Linked DNA regions of Homo sapiens. The protein of the gene in region 1 interacts with the protein of each later gene in a pairwise test. Each region holds a gene or a part of one and is shown in the gene's direction. Other genes may lie near its edges.

The links.
Region 2: the proteins of SH3GLB1 (region 1) and MRI1 interact in binary tests that used the Homo sapiens proteins (3 or more experiments, as listed by UniProt).
Region 3: the proteins of SH3GLB1 (region 1) and JPT1 interact in binary tests that used the Homo sapiens proteins (3 or more experiments, as listed by UniProt).

The regions. Positions count from the first base shown.
Region 1 is NC_000001.11:86,735,462-86,739,211, forward strand, and holds part of SH3GLB1 (endophilin-B1), read left to right. Parts: intron 1-3,750. UniProt on the Homo sapiens protein: May be required for normal outer mitochondrial membrane dynamics. Required for coatomer-mediated retrograde transport in certain cells. May recruit other proteins to membranes with high curvature. May promote membrane fusion.
Region 2 is NC_000019.10:13,767,451-13,771,200, forward strand, and holds part of MRI1 (methylthioribose-1-phosphate isomerase), read left to right. Parts: intron 1-908; coding exon of another isoform or gene 909-997; exon of another isoform or gene 998-1,110; coding exon 1,111-1,287; intron 1,288-1,373; coding exon 1,374-1,598; intron 1,599-2,127; coding exon of another isoform or gene 2,128-2,147; exon of another isoform or gene 2,148-3,750.
Region 3 is NC_000017.11:75,152,807-75,156,556, reverse strand, and holds the start of JPT1 (jupiter microtubule associated homolog 1), read left to right. Parts: upstream 1-2,044; 5' UTR 2,045-2,159; coding exon 2,160-2,215; intron 2,216-2,313; exon of another isoform or gene 2,314-3,652; intron 3,653-3,750. UniProt on the Homo sapiens protein: Modulates negatively AKT-mediated GSK3B signaling.

The DNA.
Region 1 (3,750 bases):
TTTGCTATTGGTTGAGGAAGATATAATTAAATTGACAGTTACCCTTAAAGATAAACTAATTTATACTTATTCATTACTCATCTGTTTACTATATTGAAAAAAAGTTTTAGAATATTTCGTAAGACCTCATATCTACCGATGTGATTATTTTGAGTATGTTAATATACTTCAAAGCAAAATGACAGTATGTAAAACACAAAGCTCAATCACTCATTCATCACGTATTTATTGACTATCTGCCATGTGCCAAGCACTGTTACATATTGTGGGGTAATATCAGCAAACAAAACAGGCAAAGATGCTTGCCTTTATGGAGCTCACATTATAAGGTGACACTGAAAATAAAATAATGTTTAGGGCAAACATGGTCTCTGCTCTCACAACACTTAGCCTAGGTAGAAATACAAAGCAAGCCGTTGGTAGACAGGCCATGTGGTAGGCAGAAAAGCAGAAGGTGCCTGGTATTGTGAAGGCATCTAACTGTGACTGAGGTACATCTAGCAGAGTTTCCCAGGTGAAGTTATCTTGGTAGGAATAATCTAGATGAAGAAAGGGACAGGGATGAATATTCTAAGCAAGGAAGAATATGTTTATAAAAAAGCCAGAAGAAAGAGAGTAGGGAAAGTTCGGGGAACTGATAGTAGTCCATTCAGGCTGGAGCATAGTGTTCAAGAATGGAATGGTAGATGAATCTAGAGGAGTTAAGCAGGGTCATACCATGAATGGCTTTTAAAGTAAGTTGTTGTAAGGAGTTTGGAATTTATATATTGAGGAACCATTAAAGCAGGGGAGCGATATGTAGCATTTGAAGGATGAATATCAAAAAATCGTTTCAAGGAATAAGGTAAATAAAGTCACTTTGGTGTTTGTTTCTGCACATTAACACTTCAAAACTTGGCCTAGAATAAAATTGAGCACGTCCATGAAACCAATTTTGAACCTCAAAAATGAATGGTAGCCTAATCATTAGTTATTTTAATAGAATATACAGGAGCATTTACATAACTATATATTTGAGGTTTTATTAGTGGTGTTAATATCTCAAGGCAGAACAGCACTTTATCTTCACATCATTATAACTATTTTAAGCCCAAGAAGCCTTAGTACTTTTTTCCACTTTATCCTGAAACTCTGGAAGTGCGGCATAGGGGTTGCTTATACTCGCATTCTACTTAAAGCCACACTATGCTTAGGACTTGGCCATTTAAACAAAATCCAGTTGTTGCGTTATTACTGCTCTTTGAGATAAGCTCCAGCAATACAAAGTAAAACCAGTGCTACTATTCTAGAAAAGAAAGTCTAGCTTGTCTCTCCACCCTCAATTATATTATTGCTAATGACCAATGACATTGGAGGAAGTTTTATCTCTTTAATTTGTTGCAGGTTATGCTTTTTAAGATAATACATAGAAATATTCAAATATAGAACTTGACAAATCATCCAGCTTCACACTAACACATTCAAAAACTATTTATGAAGAAGAGAACCAGATTGTATTGTTAATAGTTGCAATAACAGTACCAACAGGTAGTAGAAGTAACTGAATAACAGCCATCACTTTGGTTGAGCTTAAGTTGTGCATAGGTGCTCTTCCAGACACCTCATGTGTATTATTAACTTTATAATCCTCACCACCAAATGAGGTAGGTACTATTATTATCCATATTTTAAAGATGAGAAAGCAGAAGTACTAGTCACAAGATTAGCAATTTTTTTAATAATTGGAAGGCTTTTGCATTTCAAGCTCCAGTGGCTTAATTGACATTTTTATAGAATGAGTAATTGCTATGATTTTTTAACGTATCAATAAAAGTTCTTAGAAGGTAAAAATGGCCTTTCAGTTCATTTTTTAAATCTTTAACTCTGCAAAATTGACATAGGTACACTTCAGTGGCTAATCAAAGGCTAAAATCATACTAGTAGATTTGGAAGTAAAATATGGTTAGAGAACTAAAAAAGCCATGTGTATATACATATTCATATAAATAGAGCTTTTTCTTATCTTCAGAAATGTATGTATTTAATCCCTACTGAAGAACCGAGTTCACTGAGGAAAGGATACTAGGACAGGTGGTCTTAATTTTAGAGAGGAAAAGCTATATTTAAAACTATTTCACCCTTTATCCATCAGAGAAACATTTGCTTTTCATTTTTAAAATGTACTGTTCCAGATGTGGGGGATATAGTATATAAATAAAATAATCAAAATTCCTGCCTTCCTGGAATCTACATTCTATATGGGGGCAGAAGGGAGCAGAAAAGCAATATGTATATAAATTATATAGTATATTAGAAGGTGAAAATGGTGTACCGGAAAATATAGCAGGAAACTACTTTGATGGGAGTAGAGAAAGACGTGAGAAAGCACACATGCAGGCATCTGAGAGAAGATGCTCCAGGTAGAGGGTGCAGCAAGTACAAAAACCCTGAGGGCATGACATAGCTGGTATGGTCAAGGAACAGCAAGGAGGGCTTGGCTAGAGACGAGTAGAGGAAACGGGGAGCCAAAACATATAGGGCTTCGACTTTGGTCTTTACTCAGAGATGAGGCGCCTTTGGAAATTTTGAGCTGAAGAGTGACATAATTTTAGGCTTTAACAGAATCATTCTGGCTGCCACGTTGAGGATAGGTGTTGGGTGGAAGCTGACTGATCTGTTTCAAACTTATTGCAATAATGTAGTCAGTAATTCAGTCAGAAGATGGCAGTGGCTTGGATCAGGGTAATTGTGGTAGGTAGGATGGAAGTGGTCAGGTCCTGTGGGCCTGTGGGTGTTGTTTGTTTTTTGTTTGTTTGTTTTGTTTTGTTTTGTTTTGTTTTTTTGAGACAGAGTCTTGCTCTGTTGCCCAGGCTGGAGTGCAGTGGCGCAATCTCGGCTCACTGCAAGCTCCTCCATCTGGGTTTATGCCATTCTCCTGCCTCAGCCACCCGAGTAGCGGGGACTACAGGCACCCACCACCACACCCAGCTAATTTTTTGTATTTTTAGTAGAGACAGGGTTTCACCGTGTTAGCCAGGATGGTCTCGATCTCCTGACCTTGTGATCTGCCCGCCTCGGCCTCCCAAAGTGCTGGGATTACAGGCGTGACTGTGGGTGTATTTTAGACTTAAAGCCAGAAGGATTTGCTTGACAGACTGTATGTATATTGGACACAAAGAGGTCAAGAATTATTGCAAGGTTTTGTTTTGTTTTGTTTTAGAGACAGAGTTTCACTCTTCCAGTCCAAGGTGGAGTACAATGGCGCAACTTCGGCTCACTGCAACCTCTGCCTCCCGGGTTCAAGAGATTCTCCTGCCTCAGCCTCCCAAGTAGCTAGGATTACAGGTGTGCGCCACCATGCCCAGCTAATTTTTTGCATTTTTAGTAGAAAAGGGGTTTCACCATGTTAGCCAGGCTGGTCTTGAACTCCTGGCCTCAGGCTATCTGCCCGCCTCAGCCTCTCAAAGTGCTGGGATTATAGGCGTGAGCCACCACGTCCATCTGCAAGTTTTTGACCTAAGTAACTGAAAGAATGGGGAGTTGTAGATAGTTAAAATGGGGAATGCCAGAGGAGGCAAAGATTTCAGGGATGGAGGTCTGGGAAGTATGTCAGTTATATTAGAAGCCCAGTTTTAAATATGTTAAGTTTGAGATGTCTCTTAAACATTTAAGTGGAGGTATCCAATTTTAGGATATGCAGGTCTGGACTTGGATTGGGGGCAGGGTGAATTAGATAATTAGAGAGTTGTCAGCATATCAAAGATATTTAAA
Region 2 (3,750 bases), on another chromosome or scaffold:
TGTAATCAGGAGGCTGGGGTGGGAGGATTGCTTGAACTCAGAAGTTCTAGACCAGCCTTTGCAACACAGCAAGACCCTGTCTCTATTTTTAAGCCTGTAATGCCAGCACTTCGGGAGGCCAAGGTGGGCGGATCGCTTGAGCTCAGGGGTTCAAAACCAGCCTGGGCTTCATGGCAAAACCCCATCTCTACAAAAAATACTAAAATTAGCTGGGTGTAGTGGTATGCACCTGTGGTCCCACCTATTCGGGAGGGGACTGAGATGGGAGGATTGCTTTTTATTTATTTATTTATTTTGGAGACAGAGTCTTGCTCTGTCACCCAGGCTGGAGTGCCATGGCACGACCTTGGCTCCTTGCAACCTCTGCCTCCTGGGTTCCAGCGATTCTTTTCAAGTATTTTCTTTCTTTCCTTTTTTTTTTTTTTTTTTTTTTTTTGAGACAGAGTCTTGCACTGTTGCCCAGGCTGGAGTGCAGTGGCGCAGTCTCGGCTCACTGCAAGCTCCGCCTCCCAGGTTCACGCCATTCTCCTGCCTCCGCCTCTCGAGTAGCTGGGACTACAGGTGCCCGCCACCACGCCCGGCTAATTTTTTGAACTTTTAGTAGAGATGGGGTTTCACCGTGTTAGCCAGGATGGTCTCGATCTCCTGACCTCGTGATCCATCTGCCTAGGCCTCCCAAAGTGCTGGGATTACAGGCGTGAGCCACCACGCCCAGCCCAAATATTTTCAATCCACATGGTTGAGTCCATGGATGGAGAACCCATAGAAAAGGGGGGCTGCCTGTACACATGAGGTGTTAGAAGGTGATAAATGCTAAGGACAGAGAGCAGGAAACTGAAAGTGTGGGGATTGCTATGCAAAACTGATATATCAGGGAAGGCTTCACCGAGAAGGTGTCCTTTAAACAGACGTGAAACGGAGCTATGCGAGCATTGGGAAGAGCATACCAGGCAGAGGGAACTGCCACTGCGAGGGCCCCTGGGCGGGACTGTGCTCGGTAAGCCTTTGGCAATCCACGCCCAGACTAGGAGCCTGCACCCCTAACCAATGGACCACCCTGTCTGTTTGCCCCTCCCCGGGGCCTTCTCCTGGTGGGTGGGGCCCCCGCAGGTGTGATTCGCTCACTGCACAGCCTGGGCCGCCTGGAGCATGCCTTCTGCACAGAGACCCGGCCCTACAACCAGGGAGCCCGGCTGACGGCCTTTGAGCTGGTCTATGAGCAGATCCCCGCCACCCTTATCACCGACAGCATGGTGGCTGCTGCCATGGCCCATAGGGGCGTGTCAGGTAAGCAGACGGTAAGCCCTGGGGGCGGGGCTCTGGAGCATGGGGCCAGGTAATGACCCCCAACTTCTCATACGCCCCCTCCCCAGCTGTGGTCGTGGGAGCTGACCGCGTGGTTGCCAACGGCGACACAGCCAACAAGGTGGGCACCTACCAGCTGGCCATTGTCGCCAAGCACCATGGCATTCCCTTCTACGTGGCTGCCCCCAGCTCTTCATGTGACCTCCGTCTGGAGACCGGCAAGGAGATCATTATTGAAGAGCGACCGGGCCAGGAGCTGACCGATGTTAATGGGGTCCGGATTGCAGCACCTGGTAAGCTGCCCCCTCAGAAAGGGGACACCCCAGCTCCTGGGCACTTCATGGAGGCAGGTGATATGCAGGTCCTTGTCATCCTTCTGGAACATACACAGCTCCTACAAGCCACTTTTTCTTTTTTCTTTTTTTTGAGATGGAGTCTTGCTCTGTCCCTCAGGCTAGAGTGCAGTGGCACGATCTGGGCTCCCTGCAACCTCCACCTCCCGGGCTCAAGCAGTTCTCCTGCCTCAGCCCCCCAAGTAGCTGGGACTATAGGTGGGTGCCACCACGCCTGGCTAATTTTTGTATTTTTAGTAGAGATGAGGTTTCAACATGTGGACCAGGCTATTTATTAACTACTGACCTCAAGCAATCAGCCTGCCTCTGCCTCCCAAAGCGCTAGGATTACAGGTGTGAGCCACAGCACGCCTGGCCCAAGCCACTTCTTCTAACAGGTGCATCCTGGAGGTCAGATCCAATGTTGGAATTTACAACTAACCGGTTATATGAATGATCTTGAGTAACTGTCTTGCTATTCTCCACTTAGGTTTTCTTAAGAGGAAATAAGAATATCTGGCTGGCCACGTGTTTGTAAAGAAAAACCAAGACGGCCAGGCGAGGTGGCTCACACCTGTAATCCCAGCACTTTGGGAGGCCGAGGCGGGCAGATCACAAGGTCAGGAGTTCGAGACCAGCCTGGTCAACATAGTGAAACCCCGTCTCTACTAAAAATACAAAAATTAGCCGGACATGGTGGCACCCGCCTGTAGTCCCAACTACTCAGGAGGCTGAGGGAGGAGAATCACTTGAACCTGAGAGGCGGAGGTTGTGGTGAGCTGAGATTACACCATTGCACTCCAGCCTGGGCAACAGAGTGAGATTCTGTCTCAAAAAAAAAAAAGAAAAGAAAAAGCAAGATATTTCTACACTTATTTTTATTTGTTTATTTTCATAGAGATAGGGTCTCGCTATGTTCCCCAGGCTGGTCTCAAACTCCTGGCCTCAAGCGATCCTCCTGCCTCAGCCTCCCAAAGCACTGAGATTACAGGTGTGAGCTCCCATGCCTAGCTGCAAGACTTTTCTTAGCTGCCTATACTTCCTGGCTGTGCAACCGTTAGCAAGTTCCCTAAATTCTCTAATTCCCTAAGATCCTCACTGGTCCTATCTGTAAAATGGGCTATGGCTAGAACCTGCTGCATAAACCCAAGGGCGGTCAGTGAATTAACCCACAGGACATTTAGATCAATGACTGGCCCTTTAAATAGTTCATGCACTCAGATGCCGTGGCTCACGCCTATAATCCCAACACTTTGGGAGGCGGAGGTGGGCGGATCACTTGAGGTCAGGCGTTCCAGACCAGCCTAGCCAACAGAGCGAAACCACGTCTCTACTAAAAAAATATAAAAATTAGCCAGGCGTGGTGGCACATGCCTGTAGTCCCATCTACTTGGGAAGCTGAGGCATGAGAATTGCTTGAACCTAGGACGCAGAGGTTGCAGTAAGTTGAGACTGCACCACTGCACTCCAGTCTGGGTGACAGAGCGAAACTCCATCTCAAAAATAAAAAAAAAGGCCGAGCGCTGTGGCTCACGCCTGTAATCCCAGCACTTTGGGAAGCCGAGGCGGGCGGATCACCTGAGGTCGGGAGTTCAAGACCAGCCTGACCAACATGGAGAAACCCTGCCTCTACTAAAAATACAAAATTAGCCGGGCGTGGTGGCACATGCCTGTAACCCCAGCTACTCAGGAGGCTGAGGCAGGAGAATTGCTTGAACCCGGGAGGCGGAGGTTGCAATGAGCCAAGATAGCGCCACAGCACTCCAGCCTGGGCAACAAGAGTGAAACTCCATCTCAAAGAAAAAAAAGAAAAAACAGTTCATGAAATATTAGCATGAACCAATATTAGCATTATGGGGCCAGGTAAAATGGCTCACACCTGAAATCCCAGTATTTTGGGAGGCTGAGGTGGGAGGATCACTTGAGCTCAGGAGTTCAAGACCAGCCTGGGCAACATTGCCAGACCACAATCTCTAAAAAAATTGTTTTGCCAGGTGTGGTGGTTCATGATTGTAACCCCAGCACTTTGGGAGGCTGAGGCGGGCGGATCACCTGAGGTCAGGGGTTCGAGACCAGCCTGGCCAATGTGGTGAAACCCCGTCTCTACTAAAAA
Region 3 (3,750 bases), on another chromosome or scaffold:
ACGAGGTCAGGAGATCTAGACCATCCTGGCTAACACGGTGAAACCCCATCTCTACTAAAAATACAAAAATTAGCCAGGCATGGTGGTGGGCGCCTGTAGTCCCAGCTACTTGGGAGGCTGAGGCAGGAGAATGGCGTGAACCCGGGAGGCGGAGCTTGCAGTGAACCGAGATTATGCCACCGCACTCCAGCCTGGGCGACAGAGCGAGACTCTGTCTCAAAAAAACGAAAACAACAACAACAAAAAAAGAAAGAATGGGAAGATTGGCTGGGCGTGCGGTGGTTCACACCTGTAATCCCAGCACTTTGGGAAGCCAAGGTGGGTGGATCACGAGGTCAGGAGATTGAGACCATGCTGGCTAACATGGTGAAACTCCATCTCTACTAATAAACTACAAAAAATTAGCCGGGCATGATGGCACGCACCTGTAGTCCTAGCTACTCGGGAGGCTGAGGCAGGAGAATCGCTTGAACCCGGGAGGTGGAGGCTGCAAGTGAGCAGAGATCGCGCCACCACTGCACTCCAGCCTGGGCGACAGAGCAAGACTCTGTCTCAAAAAAAAAAAAAAAAAGCTAAGATTTTGGCTAGATGCGGTGGCTTACACCTGTAATCCCAGCACTTTGGGAGGCCAAGGAGCATGGATCACCTGAGGTCAGGAGTTTGAGACCAGCCTGGCCAATATGGTGAAACGCCGTCTCTACTAAAAATACAAAAATTAGTCAGGGGTGGTGGCGCACGCCTGTAGTTCCAGCTATTACGGAGGCTGAGGCAGGAGAATCGCTTGAACCTGGGAGGTGGAGGTTGCATTGAGCGCCATTGCACTCTAGCCTGGGTGACAAGAGCGAAACTCCACTTCAAAAACAAAAAAAAAAAAGAAAGGAAAAAAAGAAGGGAAGATTCTAACACAAACAAGTGGTGCGCTTCGTGCTGTTGTGGTAAGCACATAAATGCATCATCCGTGCTTTCTAGAACAGAACTTCTCACTGGCTTTTCATGAAAGCCCGGGGGGGGAGGGTGGTTAACCTAGACTGCCCAGAATACAAACTTCCAACTACCTGAAAGGTGGCTTTGCAAAGAGGAATGTGGTTCAATTATTATGGAAATATTGAGACAAGCAAAGACATCTGCCTTGAGGAAATATGCAAGACATGAGAAGGGCCTGCCCTCTTTTGCCCAAGGCTTTCCTATTATGATCTTGTAAACCATCATTCCTGAATCCTCCAAGTGTGTCTGCATTTGTCGCATGGATAGATTTACCCAGACAGGTGGAAGAGTCATGACTTAAGGGTTATAAACAGCTGCAGAGGCCTGAGCTGCTTCCATAGTCTTGGTAGCAGGGAATGAGTCCATTCCTGGTGCCAGGCATTAACCAGCCTTAGAATAGGCCCCCAAATAGGAGCGACTGTAATTTTGGTCCAGTACATGCACCACCCATTACAACTAAACAGTAACATTAAAATGTAAGGAATTTCCAGTCCTTTTAAAAGGGATCATCTTGGTGCGCTCTCTGTTGCTGACTCATTGTGCGGCTGCTTTGAGACTATTAGGTTTCTAAATGGGACACACAGTAGGTATTCAACAGATAAATGTCAACTTGTTGCAGTACTTTTCATCCTTTAAGGAGGATGCCCTTACTATCCCACCATCAGTAAAGCAAATGAGAGAACAGTAACAGTGACAAATCTCCCTTCTGCTTGCCGAGGTTGTAACTCCCCAAGAAAGAGCTTCCCCCTCTGTCAGGTAACGTTTTACAGTGACAGCCAGCACGACTTCCACCCAGCGCGAGGTAGATTCGCCTTCCGTCCAATCATCGCCGAGATTTTGGGGTGGGGGAGGGGAGAGAGTCCCAAGGCCTTCCCAGTCCAGGAAGGGGGCGGGCTTAGGCTGAGCCGTGGCCGCCACAGCCCATCGTAATGCCGCATGGTGCTTGGCACTCCAGAGAGCCAATAGGAATGAAAGAATTCATTTGAATCGGCCAATGCCGGCGGGTTAGGGGGCGGGGGTTGAAAACCCTATAAAGGCGTCGATCGGCCGGACAGGCGGCAGCGGCGGCTCCTGCAGCGGTGGTCGGCTGTTGGGTGTGGAGTTTCCCAGCGCCCCTCGGGTCCGACCCTTTGAGCGTTCTGCTCCGGCGCCAGCCTACCTCGCTCCTCGGCGCCATGACCACAACCACCACCTTCAAGGGAGTCGACCCCAACAGCAGGAATAGCTCCCGGTGAGGCGACCGGGTCGCGCCCGAGCCGCGCGGGGCTGAGGGGCTGGGAGGGCCGCTGCCGGCGGGGCCTCGCGCCGGTCGTTGCGGGTAACGAGCCCCGTGCGCTGTGCTCGCGCCGGGGCGGGTGGCGGGGTTCTGCCGTCGGCGCCGCCTTTGTGCCGCCTGGCGAGCCCTGCGCGCCGGCCCCACCCGGGTCCCTGCTGCTCTCCATTCATTCCTTCCACGGAGTCAGGGGCTGAGGAGGCCGGGGCTGGTCGCCCCTCGGAGCACGGCCGGTTTTCGTTAATCGGAACCTTCGGGGAGGGCTTCGCTTTCTCCTGTGTGCATCCCGGCTGGTGCATCCCCAGGGTGGTGGGCTTGGCCCCCCAGGTGCCCGGGGATCCTTTAGGGCCCCATGCATGGTCAGGTCCTATTGTCCCATTGATGGGCCACGCGCTCCTGTCTCTCCCCCGTGGCATGCGGTTGGTCTCGCTCTCGCGCGCAGCCATTGGATCCGGAGACCGGATCGATCAGGTCCGGCGGGCTCCTTACCCTCGCCGTGCCCCCACTCCTTATTCGGACCTACCTGACAGGTGCATGTGTGGTCGAGCGGGGCTGGTCATCGCGACCCTTCACCCCCCATTGAGGACCCAATCGTTCTTCCCCTCTTCGAAGTGCCTCCCCTCTTCCAAGTGTCTCCCCTTCCTAACAAAGGAAAGACCCCTTCTCCCCATCCCTGCGCTCATTTCTAAGGCGGGGGGCGGGGGCGGGCGCGGGGAACGAGCCAACCCGAGTGGGTTTTCTGCGCTTAAACCTTCGGACCGTGGCCTTTGCATCCTACCTTCGCTTCCTCCTTTGACGTTTGCCCAGTGAGTTCATCCCTGGCCCTGGTTCCCTTGCAGGAGGAGGTTTCTTGTTCTTGGGCGGGGCCGGAGACATCCATTGTCTCTAACGTGGTAGCGCTACCTGGGAAGCGGGGGATTTTTCTTGCCCTTCTTCCCACTGCTTTTTGGGCTTGGGGCACTGGGTACAGTGTTTGGACAGGAACCCTTTTCCAAGTCCTTGCTTAACTTACTTGGTGGAAGGGTTTGGATTCTGTGGAAGGTGTCCACATTGTCTCAGCTAATTGCACACTGTTCTTTAAGGTGGGTTACAGTTATGTCTGGGATCCTCTTCAAGGCTTGGAAGAAGCTTAAATCACTTTTTTGAGCATGTATTTTACATCGATTATGACCTGCATTCATGTGTGGCTACCCTCGGGGTCCTGGCCAAGTGGCACAAAGGGAGCCATTTTGTGGGGCTAAGAAGACACGTGAAATAGCCATATCTCACAGGGGTTAGAGAACTTGGGAACAAAAAGCACGCCTCACTCAGCAATTGAGCCTTAGGAGGAAAGCATGGGAAATGACATTCCTTTACAACTCAATACTTTCAGGTTTACAAGGTCAAAAAGACTAGGTAAGATTAAAAAAATAAATTGGTGATTACTGGGAGGATGGGGTACTTAAGTAGCACAGACCTAGGAAACTGGTCGCTCCCTTTCTGTTTTCTTTCCA